Regions from separate parts of the Homo sapiens genome. Here all the other regions are reported to be linked to region 2. Evidence: microRNA targets listed by miRTarBase, many of them from high-throughput screens and not tested one by one. Region 2 holds a microRNA gene; each other region holds the end of a gene's coding sequence.

What was found. The annotated mature microRNA hsa-miR-4729 reads UCAUUUAUCUGUUGGGAAGCUA and lies in region 2 at 1,364-1,385, shown strand. An mRNA with a match to its seed (bases 2 to 7 or 8) in the 3' UTR can be bound and repressed. Matches are read on the target gene's strand: a 7mer-m8 pairs with bases 2 to 8, a 7mer-A1 pairs with bases 2 to 7 and ends in A, and an 8mer does both.
Region 1: miRTarBase lists STPG1 as a target of hsa-miR-4729. The part of its 3' UTR that is shown has no 7-base or 8-base seed match.
Region 3: the mRNA of TGFBRAP1 is a reported target of hsa-miR-4729. Seed matches in the 3' UTR shown: 8mer at 2,454-2,461.
Region 4: miRTarBase lists SLC39A14 as a target of hsa-miR-4729. Seed matches in the 3' UTR shown: 7mer-A1 at 2,555-2,561 and 7mer-m8 at 716-722.

The regions. Positions count from the first base shown.
Region 1 is chr1:24,354,830-24,359,046 of GRCh38, forward strand. STPG1 (sperm tail PG-rich repeat containing 1) reads right to left here. Exons shown (of 9, transcript NM_001199013.2): 9 at 2,170-3,790. The coding sequence ends at 3,714. It overlaps GRHL3 (grainyhead like transcription factor 3), which reads left to right. Exons shown (of 16, transcript NM_198173.3): 16 at 1-489. Among named protein-coding and RNA genes, the nearest start is that of GRHL3-AS1, 35 kb to the left of the region's middle.
Region 2 is chr17:59,364,729-59,368,728 of GRCh38, forward strand. MIR4729 (microRNA 4729) reads left to right here and starts at 1,355; the gene lies at 1,355-1,426. The region is part of intron 2 of YPEL2 (yippee like 2); the gene reads left to right. RefSeq lists enhancers at 924-1,693, 1,694-2,463 and a silencer at 3,020-3,314.
Region 3 is chr2:105,263,980-105,268,196 of GRCh38, reverse strand. It overlaps TGFBRAP1 (transforming growth factor beta receptor associated protein 1), which reads left to right. Exons shown (of 12, transcript NM_004257.6): 12 at 638-3,783. The coding sequence ends at 814. Among named protein-coding and RNA genes, the nearest start is that of GPR45, 24 kb to the right of the region's middle.
Region 4 is chr8:22,419,212-22,423,428 of GRCh38, reverse strand. SLC39A14 (solute carrier family 39 member 14) reads right to left here. Exons shown (of 9, transcript NM_001128431.4): 9 at 693-3,877. The coding sequence ends at 3,731. Among named protein-coding and RNA genes, the nearest start is that of PPP3CC, 20 kb to the left of the region's middle.

The sequences.
Region 1 (4,217 bases), not on the chromosome of region 2:
AAGATGGTGGCGGCACACGCTCCCTCCCGCAGCACCACGCCAGCTGGTGCGGCCCCCACTCTCTGTCTTCCTTCAACTTCAGACAAAGGATTTCTCAACCTTTGGTCAGTTAACTTGAAAACTCTTGATTTTCAGTGCAAATGACTTTTAAAAGACACTATATTGGAGTCTCTTTCTCAGACTTCCTCAGCGCAGGATGTAAATAGCACTAACGATCGACTGGAACAAAGTGACCGCTGTGTAAAACTACTGCCTTGCCACTCACTGTTGTATACATTTCTTATTTACGATTTTCATTTGTTATATATATATATAAATATACTGTATATATATGCAACATTTTATATTTTTCATGGATATGTTTTTATCATTTCAAAAAATGTGTATTTCACATTTCTTGGACTTTTTTTAGCTGTTATTCAGTGATGCATTTTGTATACTCACGTGGTATTTAGTAATAAAAATCTATCTATGTATTACGTCACATTACTTCACATGCTGCTCTCGTTCCTTTTGGGAGAGTCTGCTGGAAAGAGATGGCTACATTGGTCGGGGCCTCGCTCCTCTTTCTCCCTTCGCTCTGGCTCTGTGCGGAGAACGGGTTGCCCTGGACTTGAAGGATGCTGGGACGTGCAGGGCACCGGTGGAGCAGAGGTGCCCCCTCTGGAAGGCAGCAGATTCCTGATGCCCAGATGTTTGTGTTTGAATGTTACAGCCTCAGGATCATTGACTCTGCAGAGAAAGTCCTGGGAAGGGTGTAGAATGAGCTTGAAGAGGACCTCACAGCTGAGGCCATCAGGCAGCACCCAAGGCTGGGAGCCACATGACCTGAGTCTTGTGCCAGCTCTGCGCCTACTCTCTAGGCCAAGCCACGTTCCCTGCAGCCAGCTCCTACAGCTCACAGAAGCAATTGCAGGTATCTCTTCCCAACTCTGAAGGAGTGTGGTCATGTTGGCACATTGAAATCAGCCATGGTGACAGTCAGAAATTGACAAATGCTACAAATCAAGGCCTTTATTTTCCTTAGAGAACAAATCACAGATTCAGGCTTGCTTTCTTTTCATTTATCTTTTTTTTTTTTTTTTTCTTGCGATGGAGCCTCGCTTTGTCACCCAGGCTGGAGTGCAGTGGCATGATCTTGGCTCACTGCAACCTCCGCCTCCCGGGTTCAAGCGATTCTCCTGCCTCAGCCTCCTGAGTAGCTGGGACTACAGGTGCCTGACACCACGCTTGGCTAATTTTTGTATTTTTAGTAGAGACGGGGTTTCACCATATTGGCCAGGCTGGTCTCGAACTCCTGACCTTGTGATCCACTCGCCTCAGCCTCCCAAAGTGCTGGGATTACAGGCGTGAGCCACTGCACCTGGCCAGTTTTTGTCTCTTTTAGATCAGTTCCTCCATTGCCTCATTTATCTTTTTTTTTGTTTTTTTGAGACGGAGTCTGGCTCTGTCGCCCAGGCTGGAGTGGAGTGGCACGATCTCGACTCGCTGCAAGCTCCGCCTCCCGGGTTCACGCCATTCTGCCTCAGCCTCCTGAGTAGCTGGGATTACACGTGCCCACCACCATGCCCGGCTAATTTTTTGTATTTTTAGTAAAGATGGGGTTTCACCGTGTTAGCCAGGATGGTCTCGATCTCCTGACATCATGATCCACCCACCTCGGCCTCCCAAAGTGCTGGGATTACAGGCGTGAGCCACCGTGTCCGGCCACATTTATCTTTTTTAAGCTGCCAAGTTGAAGTGGGTCTTTCTTCCTTTGGGAGAGCAGACTTACCAGCCACTGCTACCTGTAGCCCTCAGTTTCTTTGGCTATAAAATGCAGGTCATGATCTCTGTTGGTTGTTTGTAATTATCATCTTCAGAGCCTCAGGGCTCACTGGTGGGTCTCCAAGGCCACTACAATGCGAGGAAGGGGCTGCAGCAGTCCCTGCGTACCCTCCCTAACTCCATCACTGCAGCTCTGCTTCTCTCCACTTAAATATTTGGGTTTCTCGTAAACATCTGTCTGAGTAAAACTTTTTTTAAAAAGGTGTGAAAACCATGATCCCTCTAAGAACCTCCCAGCGCTGACAGTCTGTGGTCCTAATTCCCAAGCCCCTACCTAGAGTCAAGGCTATGGGCAGGTGAGTCTCTAGCCTAAGGCACAAAAATTAAGGGGTACCCAAAAGCTCAATAAGCAAGATAAATAAGTTTAATGCAATATTTTTAAAATTAAGGCCCCCCCCCCCAAAAAAAAAATCCATGGTGAACAAAACATCACAGTTTTAAAGACAGGATTCGTATTACTGATGTTTCCTTTTGCCTCGGGTTCCCATTAGGCTTGCCTGCCCCTGTGGGAGGGACCCAGTGGGGCACCCAGAGTTGCTCTGCCCAGGCGAGGCCTCACTGTGGCTGTGACGCACCCTTGATGTCAGAACGAGGTGATGTGTGAAGGTTAAATGACAGAGGAGTGTGGAACCACAGCCATGCTGTAGGTGCTCCAGGTGCTCTGCGTGTACAAAGTTCCCACCTCCTGAACTTCCCACCCAGCTCCCCTCCCAGAGCCAGTTAGGAAGCTGGAAGGTGGCGCTTCTCAACCTACACCTATCATTGGAATCACCTGGGTGGCTCCTGCCTCCCCACTGCCCAGACCCCACCCTGGAGGAGTTAAATCAGCATTTGTGGGTGGGCCCCAGGCCTCAGTACTTTTTAAAGTCCCCAGGTGATTACAGTGTGCAGTCAAGGCTGAGAACCACTTCTCTGGAGAGGCCACAGTTGTACAGGCCTTGGAGGCTTTGTAACCTCTCGGTATCTGGCGGGGTTAATGTACAGAAAGACTAAACAGCGTCAGTCAAAGCCTGCTGGGAGATCAGAAAAGGAGCCTGGCAGCTCCCCACCCACCGCGAATCTGTGCAGCCTCCACCAAAACCACTAGGGCACATTTCTTTTTCCCTCCACATAGAGAGACGAAAGCTATCAGGCCTAGACAGGCCATGTGGACTCCATGGAAGGGCCTGTAAGCCTTGAGAAAATTCAGTCCCGCCAGCAGAGAAAGTCAGGGAAAAGCGCAGCCCCCGGGCCCGGCCACTGCCATTCCAAGATGATCTCCCACTCCAAAGAGAAAAAGGTCTAAAAGGAGTAAAGAGAGGTCTTTCCAAACAGGTGGTCACTTTAGAAAGGAAGCTGTGGACTGGTGGAAAAAGCATCACCTGCCTGCAGGTAGCTTTCGCCCAGTAGACATACCGTAAGTGAGTGAGGTCAGAAAGGGACAAATGAGAAAGGCAGGAGTGAGGGAATGAATGAATGTGTAAATGAATGAAGGAATGAAACAGGGAAGGGTGGGGCTTCCAGGCTTGGCCACCTTCAGGGTGGACTGATCCTCCTTGAAGTCTGCGCTTCAGGAGTCCCTTCAGTCTGCGGCAGGGAGTCGTGCCGGAAGGCAGCCTGGATGGGTGCGTGGGGAAGCAGCCAGGGGGCTCTGTCCACTCCTCCCTTCTGCTCAGGAAGCCACTGGAGTCTGTGGGGCTGGGGTGAAGTCTCCAGGGAGCAATGTCTCCAGCTCAAGACAAAGGCAATGGCAGCAGTCCGGCTAGGATGCCAGGCCAGAGTGGTAGAGCCACCCCCCAAGTTGTCAGCTGCCACACTCATGATCGGTCTCCTCCTGAGGAATGTCCTGGGGACGCTGGGCAGGGTGGGCTGGTGGCTGGAGTTCTCCTTGACCTTGTGTGACATCCCTACAGAACCGGGATCCATTTCTTGTCCTCGTTGTAGAGGAAGGACTGCTTTCCTGGAAGCTCTGGCTTGTACGTAGCTGTGAGGGGACAGAGAGGCGGAGGCATTAAGAGAGAAAAGGCCCATTGCTGCAGTCTCTGGCATTCTACCTCAGAGCTGGAAAGGCCTGGGGACCCCTGTGCCAGCCCCTGTATCTTACACGTGGGGAGACAGAGAGGAAGGAACTGGCCCGAGGTTATTTGGCTCTTAACTGGCCCAGGGGAAGTCAAACTCTGACTTCCTGCCTTCTTTAATTCTTTTCAACTTCTTTAACAGAACAAAATTTACAAAACTATTTTCTATGAAATTCGAAAAGAAATTGAGTAAAGCAATATTCTTAAAGAAGCAAGGTGTTAGCTTCATGGGGTCTTGTTTTGATCTAGTTCAGGGGTTTCCATAAAAGCAGAAGCCATGACAATTGCGGACATGGTTCTATAGGAGATGAGCAGGGCTTGGGAACTGTAGCC
Region 2 (4,000 bases):
TATTCAGCCTCCCAAGTAGCTGGATTACAGGTGCCTGCCACCACATCGGCTATTTATTTATTTATTTGTTTATTTCATTTTTTGTAGAAGATGGGGTTTCGCCATGTTGGCCAGGCTGATCTCGAACTCCTGACCTCAGGTGATCCACTGGCCTCGGCCTCCCAAAGTGCTGGGATTACGGGTATGAGCCACTGCGCCCATCCGCCTTTGCGTCTTAATGGCCTCACTGGCAAATGGGAATAATAGTAATATTAGATACCTGATAGGATTTTTGTGGAAATTAAATGAGGTTATTGATGTGAAGTTCTTACCACAGGGCCTGGCACGTGATAAGTGCTCAATAAATGTTGGAAGCTAGTGTTATTCTATGAATAGTCACTAAAGAAAACCAAATGGAAAGTGACAGAACTAGGGCCTGGCACCCCAACAAGCCTGGCACTCTTGCTTGTTGCCCTTGTTTTTGGAGAGTCTCAGCAGTTGCCCTTGAGCCCTACAGTTGTCATCTGTCGTCTTTTGAGGCCTCTCCTCATGGAATCGCTTGTTCCTTATCCCAGGGGGACCAGCAGGTCTCAGGAGGTGATGAAATAGCAGCAGCACCTTCCACCACAGCTTTCTGGGGCCTTACCTGCAGGCAGCAGCGAAGCCTCTCTAGAATGTAAATGGAAAAGCCTGTCCCTGCCTCCTTCCCTTTTAGTCTGTCAGGTGGTTACTGTGCCTCTGACCCACCCGAGGACCTCAGTTGGCTGTGACACAGCAGCCCAGGCGGCTGGAAGAGAAGTCCCTGGCCTGGAGAGTGAAGCTGGAGCTGAGAGTTGCTTGTCAGTTTGATTCCTTCTGTGACACTTCGGGTGGGGGGGAATCTTTTGAAAGAAACCACTTTCTTTATCTTGAAAGAACAAAACCAAAAGAGAATCTCTGATAACCTTTGTTTCCAAAGCACTCAGCAAAGCTGCTGAGAGGAGGGTTTGACCTGGTGACCCAGAGTATTATCTCTGGGGTAAGGGCTGCCCAGCCAAGGGGAGCTTTAGCTGTTTCCCTCCTCTCCCTGGCTTATTGCTGGTGGCTGGACAGTGAGTTGGAGGAGGAGGGGGAGAGGAAGAGAGGAGGAGATGGCTCTGCCAGCTGCCGCTAGAAACAACAACATCTAATCAGTCCATAAACTCCCTCCCCTCCAGACTACAGTGATGTCAAGAGGTGGAGCAGGTGGCACTAGTTCTCCCCTCCCCTTTAGCCCCTGACACCTTTGGGTCTTTGAAGGGGTAAATTATGATCATCAAAAGGAAAATTCTCTATCTTTGGGGGCCCAGGAGCTCCTTTTCCTTCTTGTTAGGGTTGGCTCCACCAAGAGCAATTTTCTGTTTCCTCATTTATCTGTTGGGAAGCTAACTGTGACCTTAGCGTCCCAGCAGATAAATGAGGAAACAGAAAAGTGTTTCCTCACCAAAACAAAAAATCCCTGAGCAAACCCTCCTGCAGAGGGCCCTGTCATTTATTCCACATTGTGTGAGCTCCTCTTACGTGTTAGACCCTGGGAATTACAGTGGCAAACAGATGCAAGCTTTGCCTTCACTGAGCCTGTCACACGGTACCCTTTGGTTCCTGGAAGACCCAGCACCTGAAAAAGCGGTTGGTGGCAGCAGCAACAAGGATCTCCTTCCTGAGCCTGGCCCCTAAGGTTATCCGGGGCAGCTGAAAAACCAGCATTTCCATAGTGCTTTCCATTCAGTTTGCCTAATTTTCATGAGAGGCTGAAGTGCCTTTTGTTTCCCTGATGGTCCCTGTCCTCCCCTGCAGAGTCGGCCTGAGCTAGCCCAGCCGAGTCGGGCAGCCCCTTGTTCTCTGATGCATCTTTGGAGGAATGTCTGTATTCTCAGGACCAGGCCTCTCCCCACTGGGTGGGGGCTGCTTTGTTTACATTCCTGACCTTCTGAAAGCTGCCAGCTTTATCCACAGCTGGCCTTTCCCCTTCAGATGCCAAATGTTCCAAACGACAGGTACAACTCTGAGAGGGCCGTTAAGGTTCATGCCAGAAACATTCACCTAGGAAGCCTGAGGAGAGAGGAAGCCAGTGAAACTAGACTTCATGGAGCTTTTTGAAGCTCGAAGCCCCCATATTTCTTGATTCTTCCCGCAGCGGGAGAAAAAAAGAAAAAACACAAAGTGTGTCTGTGTGGGAGGAGAGTTCCTCCCTGTCCATCTCTTTCTCTATAAAAACAAGAGGCCAACCTGCTCTGAGCATCGTGGGGGCAGGTGCTGGGTAAATACACGAGAAAGGAAAGCCAATAAGATAAGGTCTGACAAATCTAGGTCACCCGGCTGCTGCCAGGTACCTGTGTGACTGGCCACCTTGAAACTGACAGGAGGAGTATGGACTTTTGTTCGAGGCTCAGCCTGGCTGATTTCTCATGTCTTTGTTTATTTATTCAGTAAACATTAATTGAGTGCCATTATGTGCCAGGCCATGTGCTAGGTGTTGCAGGTCCCTGTGTGCCTCTGACAGGCAAAATCTCCTCCTGGATCCCAGGCCTGTAACCAGGGCTAAAAAAAGAAATGACTTCATTCAAAAGCCAGTTGGTTCACTAACTTCCAGAGTAGGGGCAGCCAGTCCCTTGGTAGAAGGGAGGGGCTGTTTGCAGTCTTGATTCCCTGTTTTTTGGGCTAGATCCAAAGGTCTGCAAAACTTTTTCTATAAAGGCCAGATAGTATTTTACGCTTTGCTGGACATAGGGTCTCCACTCAAATCTGCAGCCACAGAGAATATATAAACAAATGAGCATGGATGTTTTCCAGAAAAACTTTATTTGCAAAACAGGTGAAAGGCCCAATTAGGCCCTTGGACTGGTTTACTTAACCCTAGGTAAGATGATTAGAATGACTGTTGTGAAATGGGTGTTGGAGAAATAGGTTTCTGTGATTTCAAGAGGAATCTCAAACCAGCATGGTGGCTTGTATGAAGAGTGTAGGGGTTGAGGCACTGTGCTAATTGACAAGGTCTTAATTGACACCCTGGTGAGAATTCTATTCCATAGGCCAGACTTCAGCCCCAGCCGTCTAGCACCCACAGGTTCCCACCATAGGTTACAAGGTGATCAAGCCAGATAGGGCACATAGTTTCCTACAGTGTCATCACTGTAATGGGAAGACAGTGTGGGGCCCTGCTGAGGAGAGTCTGTGGCACCATTTGAAAAGCCTTGAATGAGGGTCAAGCCACCTCTGCTCCAGACCTGGCTTTGTGCTAAATTTTCAGTGTGGCATTGAGCAAGTCACTTAACCTCCCTCATCACCCTGCATATATTAAATCCTACTGTATGAAGCACTGGGGATACAGAAATGGATACAAATACAGAAATGGATGAAATTCTCTTTTTTTTTTGAGACAGAGTCTCACTCTGTTGCCCAGGCTAGAGTACAGAGGCATGATCACAACTCACTGCAGCCACAACTTCCCAGGCTCAGATGATCTTTTCACCTTAGTCTCCTGAGTAGCTGGGACTACAGACATGCGCCACCATGTCCGGCTAATTTTTCTATTTTTTGTAGAGATGAGGTTTCTCCATATTGCCCAGGGTGGTCTAAAATTCCTGGGCTCAAGTGATCAGCCCGCCTTGGCCTGCCAAAGTGCTGGGATTGCAGGCGTGAACCGTGCACTTGCCTGGAATTCTTGCCCTTAAGTAGCTTATGATCTAATGGGGAAGGCAAATAGATAAACAGTGATAAAATGTAGTGAAACACAGTCATTGTTTCACTGTAAGTGATTGTTCCAGATGTTATGAGGGTAAAGAGCAGGATGAATGTTTACTAAGATGAGTGTTTAGAAGCATTTACTAAGTGGACAAGAAGACGAAGACAAGAGGAGTCCATTCTGAGCAGAGACAGAGAAACATGACACGAGGCCAAGTCCAGGGACCACAGGGAAGACAGATGGGGAGTCTGTGCTTTAGGGAAGCAGGTCAGGGTGGATCATGCAAGGCCTAGAAGGCCAAACTAAGGAGTTTAGACA
Region 3 (4,217 bases), not on the chromosome of region 2:
GTTGCTGCTTGATCCTGCCAATAGACCAACCTGCCTCGGTTGACACGAGTGAATTGTGTAGAAAAACTTTATAACTTTCAGAACTCAAGTCCTGTTGATCAGACAGGGACCGATGGCATTAAGACTCAGTTTCACCAGTTACCTCTAAGGAAACGGAAGGGTGTCTCCCAGGACCAACCAGGAATATGCCACTTGTTAGCTGTGTAACTTTGACTACATCCCTTATTTGTTTGTGCTTTACTTTTCTTATTTGCAAATGAGAGAACCCTGGAGTTACACTATTATATGGTCTCATTCAGCATTAACATTCATGACTTTCTAACAGGCCTTGCTTGAAATGATCAGAGCCAGAGAATGTTGGAGAGAGGATCTTAAGTAGAAATGCCTCAGCCAGACAAGCAACAATTACTTTTGTGAAATAAGAAAAGCAATTGTGTAACTTTCTTCCTTGTCCAGTTACTAAGGATGGTTTTATTTACACCTTTAGCATTTCATTTCAAGAAGTTGATATTAAAGAAATCCTCATCATAATAATAACCCATGGAGTAATGCATGTCAACTCTGCAAAACTAGAACGTAGCCACTTTAAATATACTTAACACATGACAGCATTCTCAGTCTTGGTTTCTTCTTGCAGATGAAGTTGAAAGGAAGCTCAATCCAACTCTCAGACAAAAAGCTTTGTCAGATATGCCAAAATCCCTTTTGTGAGCCTGTGTTTGTTAGATACCCAAATGGTGGTCTTGTGCACACCCACTGTGCCGCCAGCAGACACACAAACCCCAGCTCATCCAGTCCTGGCACTCGGACTTGAAAAGCTTGGCCCAAGGGTGCGAGGGGAACTCCGAGTTCTTTCTGAGCCTGCTGGACATGAAGAGCAGATGACCACCATGCTCTGTGTCAGCCAGGACGAAGGGAGACATCTGGGTGCCAGGGAGCCTTCCGTCCATACGCAACAAGGACTCCTCGCTGCTGACCAGGCTCTATGAATGTACATGGAATGACCAGGCTCTATGAATGTACATGGAAAACCCCTAAAAATCCCCAAAACAGAAACATACAAGAGTTCACCTGTCCAGGTACATAGTAATCCAAGACAGAGGTCTACTTTGAAAAAAAAAAAAAGGGAGTCTTCCTCATGCAGTCCAGACCCAGGTGGGGGATCCCCCACCACCCCCACACTCCAACCTTTAGACTCATGTTTGCACTGGAAACGTGGCTTCACCATGGCTGGCGACAAAGTCCTCTCTTGCCTGGGTGAGTGGCGAGGGCACAGAGCCTCATGGGGGTCAGCCTTGCCCTCCTGCAGAAACACGTTCTCCATCCACGCCGCTCACTCATGGGCCCATTTCCCAGGGTTACCTCGTGGGCTCTGCCTTTGCCCTCAGAAACGGCTGACCCTGGAGAAGTACCTTTGTTCCTTCTTTCTTCCTCTCCGGCTCTCAGCTCCCAAAAGATTCTGCCTTGTGTACCCAAGCACTCACTCTTGGGTGAACTAATGCTTCTGGCTGCCTAGCAAGTGAAGATCTGTTGAGAAACTGAGAACGCTCCAAGAGAGAAGCTGCTCTCCCCTCCTTGAAGAAGCCGCGGACACGGGAAACCCACGGCGGGCAAGGGCCCAGCTGTGTGCTCCTTTCCTGTCATGGCATCTGCTGATTTGAAACTCCATGACGAACACGTTGAACTAAACATTTTTATTTAAATTTGTATCATGTTCGTAGTTGCTCTCTTGTTGAGAGAGTCATCTGTCCTGTTTGTTAGGGGTATTTTTTCTTGTTAAAATGTATCTCCTGTTGAATACTCGGGAAATTCAAAGGGAAGTGTGGTCAGCACACACTGAGCGTTCTTTTCTGGAGAGGCCGGTTTTAGCCTCGTACCTTTAGCAGGACCGACAGCGGGTGGAAGGGCCCGTGTGCTGGATGGGGGTGTCGCCTCCTGGATGGCACACCCTCCCGAGGACATCCAGACAGGCTGTGTCACCCTCCAGCACTTTATGTGCCTGCTCTGAGGTGTCCTGAACACACAGCAACGGCCTCTCCTTCATCACAGGCCGGGGATTCCTTTTGTGTTTCTGTATAACATCGATGACGAGCTGAAGCTGTTGTCACTTCACTGCCCTCTTTGGAATTTCTTCATTGTGCTGACTGATTCTATTAGGGGCTAACAATAAAGGCAGTCTACCCACTACTATCATGCTTGGGAAACAAGCGTCAGCTTGTACATATGACAAGAGAGGACCCTGAATACACCCTCTCTTCATCAGCCCAAGCCTTACTGAGGTGGGATGAAGACCTCATTCTCTGTTCTTTAAAACATGTTTCGTGAACTAATATTGGTCCATGTATTTTTTGTCCTTTTGGGACTCTAAGTGGGTCAAGAAGCAAAAACATCCATGTGTTGTTTGGGGGGAATTGGCACCATTTTTTCCTGACTATGTTTCAATTAACTAAAGAATAAATGATGAAGAAATTCTCCTTGTAGCACAACTGTATGCTGTGTAAATTGGTGTGAGCTCAAAGCCCAGTCATGTGTTTTACCTGTGGGTGACTCTGTTGTAGAATGGTCATATTACTGCATATGTTATCATGACAACTTGTGAGTTTGAGTTTATATTTCTCAAAGAACAAGTTACCCGTATATGCAACATTGCGCCATTAAAAGCTTATTTCTCTGTACACAAAATGGGTAAAATCTTGAAAAAACTTAGTAATTTCTCATTCCTAACACACAGACAGAGTCTCACTCTGTCACCCAGGCTGGAGTGCAGTGGCGCAATCTCGGCTCACTGCAACCTCCACCTCCTGGGTTCAAGCGATTCTGCTGCCTCAGCCTCCCGAGTAGCTGGGACTACAGGTGCATGCCACCACGCCCAGCTAATTTTTGTATTTTTAGTAGAGACGGGGTTTCACCATGTTGGCCAGGATGGTCTCGGTCTCCTGACCTCGTGATCTGCCTGCCTCGGCCTCCCAAAGTGCTGGGATTACAGGCGTGAGCCACTGCGCCCAGCCAACACTAGTCATTTTTATTTTTTCACTGAACATTGATCAATACTCTAAAATGTTTGTCATCCTTTAGAATAATGGGAATTAAAGTTGAGCAGTTTTCCATCTCTACCAAATCCTTCACCACAAGCAGCATTCTATTACAGTATGAAGAATTGTCTCATATGTTAAAACTGTACTTTTCTCTAACCTTTCTCTCACTCCTACAAGGCCCTTTTCTCAAATCATATTTCTGAGAGAAATGTATGGTTCTTTCTCACAGGCCTGCTGATTTGTAACTGTGCCATCGAATAGAGCAATTAGATCCATCAGACCTTTTTCCCCTCATTAGGTTCAGTGGAACCATTCTGGTTAAAACAGCATGAACTGAACTCAGTTTACATTCATATTCTATGGGCAATACCATTTGGTTTTTGGAACTGTTTATCTGCTGTTCCCTATCAAGTATTAATGTAGGGATGTCACTCAGGCTGCGTTGCACTGGGCTGAGTTCAACTGCGACGCTCTCACTGACGCGTGCTTACATGTGCTTCTCACTTCCGGAGCACAGGCAGGTGGCTGCGGGGTCCCAGCTCTGAATGGATGCCCATGATGCAACTGGGGCAGCCCTTGCTTTTTGCTTGCTCTCCCACAGAAACCTTTGTCCTTGCAACTTTATCCTTTGTCCCGATTGGGTCCCAGATACACAAAATGTACAAATGTAAACTTGCTCATTTTATTAAAATTCTTTTAGTTCTTTGTTCTTTCTGTAATTTTTTAAAATAAAAATTGCCTTGATGGAGTGATGGTTTTCACTCGCACCATACCTAGTCTAAATAAAGAGTTCTAGAATCTGTACCTTCTTGCTTTTCCTAGCACCTACAGAGGACTTGAGTTGCCAACCCCTTAAATTCTGCTATTGTTTTACCAAATTTTAACGTGTCTGCTTCTGAATTTACCCAATGCATATTTTAGGGTGCTCCTTGACATTGGTTGCCATCAGATTAATCATGCACTGAGGAATTCAACCAGGGAGACTTCTGATTACTTCTTATCTACTTTACCTTTTAGCCAGATACTCTTAAATAAGGCTGCACTCTTGGATTTCTAACCCTGAGCATATTCAAAGAACATAACTCTTACAAAATCGTACCTTTTAAATTTTGCTTCATCCCCTACACTGTTGTTGATGGCAGGTCTTTCAGCTATCCTGTTGAATTTCAGAGCACTTTCTCA
Region 4 (4,217 bases), not on the chromosome of region 2:
GGGAAGCGGAGTTTGCAGTGAGCCGAGATCGTGCCATTGCACTCCAGCCTGGGCAATAGAGTGAGATTCCGTCTCAAAAAAAAAAAAACAAAACAACAACAACAACAAAATTCAAAAATTAGCTGGGCATGGTACTACATGCCTGTAGTCCAAGCTACTTAGGAAGCTGAGGCATGAGAATCGCTTGAACCCAGGAAGCGGAGGCTGCAGTGAACCGAGATCGTGCCAATGCATTCCAGCCTGGGTGACAGAGTGAGACTGTCTCAAAGAAAGAAAAGAGAAGAGAGTACAAAAGTTTCCTTCTTGGCCTGGCACAATGACTCAAGCCTGTAATCCCAAGACTTTGGGAGGCCAAGGCGGGCAGATCACCTGAGGTCAGGAGTTCGAGACCAGCCTGGACAACATGGCGAAACCCCATCTCTACTAAAAATACAAAATTTAGCCAGGCGTGGTGGCGGGCACCTGTAATCCCAGCTACTCGGGAGGCTGAGGCAGGAGAATCGCTTGAACCCAGGAGGTGGAGGTTGCAGTGAGCCGAGATCGCACCACTGCACTCCAGCCTGGGCGACAAGAGCAAAACTCTGTCTCAATAACAACAACAAAAAAAACCTTCTAAAATCCCAGTCAAATGTTAAACCAGACCTGGTAAAACAAAACTTTGTACGTCAGTGAGACACCATCGCCACCTTGTGTTCAACAGCCTTCATTACATCCACATTTATTGCAAATGATCACCCGTGGGATTCTCAACAATTACAGAATATAGCTTTATTTATAGAATCTTACAAATAAAACATTTACAGTCCACATAAGTTAATTTTCTTTTCTAATTTCTTCTCATACACCTGAGTTATTTAAAAAAATACTGTGATGGAACTGCAGAACTGTAAAGGGAAATAAGAACAATAAAATCCTAACCTCTCTTGCAAAAATCAGACAACTTTGTTTTAAAGTAGATGCCCAGCATATTGCCATCTCTTTGGAAGAGGACTTACTATACTCAGCTCTTACGCTACCCAAACAGAGAAGCCTTCTTTTTAAAACCCAAGGTTAAGGACCAGTGAAGAATAGCTCCAATTTGACACTAGACACAAAATACCTTTGGGGGCAAAGACAGGGGCAAGCTGTGTGCCGGTGGTGAAGTGAGAAGGAGCAGAACCCCTGTCCCTGCCTCACTGTTCCTGCACGTGACATACACTTTCCTTGCTAACTTATTAATAGGAGCTGGTGCATCTGGAAAATGAGGTCGAAGCTGCTAATGCCAGGGGTGAAAAAGTCCTCCCACTGACTTGCTACTCCTTAGACTTCTAATATGTACAAATGCTTGAAACAGCAAATTCAACAACTAAAAATCAAAAGAAATTGCCAATTTTTGACTCATGAGGCAAAGCTGTTGCCACAATCAGTGGCGACTCAAGTCAGACGATGTGAGCGTCTCCGCCCCTCCTAAGCTCCGACTAGGACTGACCTCTGCGCCAACTACGGTTTAAAGAGGATTTCCCTTTGAGGCAGCTGTCTATGGAAGGAAATTTCTTAAGGTAATATAGGTGTGCACAAAAAGGGAAAACACCCTATTTCATTTTTCAATTTGTTAAAGATTATAGTTTTGAGCTCCTCTCCTAAACTAGAAATCCACTAACTCTAACTTAGTATTCTACTCCAAGACAAAGGGTATTATGTTTAAGGAATGATAGGATCTATTGGGAATGCTAAAATTATAAATTTAATACATCAATGCGAGTTAGGTTAAAGCAAAATCTTCCAGAGTCTTCAACTTTGAGTTATTTTCTGCTAGCTCCTGAAAGCAGCTTGAGAAAAATAAAACAGAAAAGACAAAGAACCGTTTAAAAACAACAATAATAATGACAATATAAAAAGTTAGATTCCAACATTCAAGGAATTGGTTCTTTGGTAAAACTGGACCATAATCCCACCAGGAAATCAGTCCTGATATTTAATCTAGAATCTCCATCACTGAAATTTTCCCTCTTCAGCGTATTCTCAAATGTATTGAAGCCAACAGGCAAGATAAAAACAAAACTTAAAAAAAGTATCACCAGCAGTTTTTCCTGCTCACGTTCTTTTCAAGAATATTCCTGGTTTGACAGATGTCTCCCAAGAAGAGAAAACAAAACGGATGCTGCTTGTGATTACTGAGAGCGGACAGTTTTTCTATGTAAGAGAAAAGCTCAGGCATTGGTAGTGAACCAGTACTCCTGTCAGCCATGCACATGAATCAGTTTGCAAACATGGCCCCTGGGCTCCAACTGTGGGCACCACTAAGAAAGGCTTCTGGAGAGACAGGCTCCCCAAAGTGGCTAAAGAATCTCACATTATCAATATGATAATAATAAATCAATTCACCTAGTGAACCTGGAGAAGAGCTCCCCTTGAAGCCAGAGCTCGGAGGCAAGGGCTCCACAGTGGCTAAGGCTGGCCTACAGTTTTAAAGACAAGTTATCTCCATCCATTTTCTGGAGAGAGTTAGAGAAATTCATATTCAATTCAATGCAGGATTCGACTTTTTTTGCAAGGAAGCAGTAACCTAGACGGGTCATTTAAAACCCATCTGTAGCATAATCATTAGGCCAACCATTCTGCAAACATCTGCGATGCCCTAAGTGAAGTTTGTGCCCTTACATTTCAGAGACCCCCTATTAGTCATGCTTTGATTTATGGAAGCGGCAAATCCTAAATTTTGCCTGCACTGATTCCATTTCTGATTACCCTTGTCTAAGTAGAGCATAAATGGCACCCCATTTCTACAAGTCAGCTTGCCACTCTGCAGACGTCTCAACCTGGGGGAGGATAGTTTGTGCAGTCTCCCCTCTAACACAGAGGTCTCAAATGTGCTCAGAATGTGCTTCTAGGAGGCAGCTACAAAGTCTCTTAGAAGATGGCAGTGGGGAAGAGGAGGTCAAAATCACAGCCAAACCAACTGTTTTCTTGCAGACAGCCTGAGCCTCCATTCTGTCAGCGTTAACCTGAAAGAGGAGGTCCAGGCAGCCACACCGCCACGTTAGCTCACTCGGACAGCCGTGAAACACCAGGTGCTGTTACAAAATCAATATCCAGCATCTCAGTAGGAACAAGTGAGCATCCTGACAAGACACACAGCAGTGGTTCGACTTCCTCTCCCATTCAGGATGAACCTTGCCTCACCTCTCACCCTGCTCATGTGTTCTGACTTCAGGTTCTCTTTGAGAGAAGTAATAGGCAATTAAACAGACTTTGAAAAAATGGGAAGGCTTCCTGTCTCCTGTCTCTTCTATTGGCCAGCTGGAGGTCCAAGGTGCCCAGCTAGAGTCATGGGCCCCACACTATGGATTCAACTCTTGATATTTCTAGCCAAGTTATAACCATTGGCTCTATTTTTGCATTGTTGGGTAAAGGATTCAAAACCTTTCAGCACTGGTTCCAAGAGGAGGCCAAGGTAATCAGAGAAAAAAGTCAGGCTTGTCTTGTAAGCTGCATTCAGGTTCCAGAGTCACTGAGAGAAAAGGAGGTGAGGAGAGGGCAAGAGGCACTAGCTAGAGACTGGTTACCAGGGCAGCTTATTCCTAGGATACAGCATTTTACAAACGGCTGACATTTGAATGCAGGAATACAGTCTGTGTCAGTTTTTCATAGAACGGCCTCTTCCGTGGTGCATTGTGGATGGTAAGTCCTCGGGCTGGCGATCGGGCAGCCCAGGGCCCGACTTCCAGTCCCACAGGCTCTTGGCAGAGCCCTACCCAATCTGGATCTGTCCTGAATACATGGTGAGGACCACCATGATGGTGAATCCAGTCAGGAGGCCCAGGTTCTGGATGATAAATGGAATCAAGATGCTGCCCTTCCTTTCATCCTCTTGACAGACCTCATTCATCTCAGGGAACTGGGAAAGAAGCAAGAAACAACACAGCTGCAATTCCTTCTTCATCTTGTAAGTCCAGGGCAATTCAGTGATGGAGATATAGATCAGGTTGGTTGACAAAGAAAATTATCAGGGCCAGGTGCAGCGGCTCACTAGAGGTCAGGAGTTCGAGACCAGCCTGACCAACATGGTGAAACCCTGTCTCTACTAAAAACATAAAAATTAGCTGGGCGTGGTGGCGCAGGCCTGTAGTCCCAGCTACTTGGGAGGCTGAGGCAGGAGAATTGCTTGAACCCGGAAGGCAAGGCTGCAGTGAATGGAGATCACACCACTGCACTCCCGCCTGGGCAACAGAGCGAGA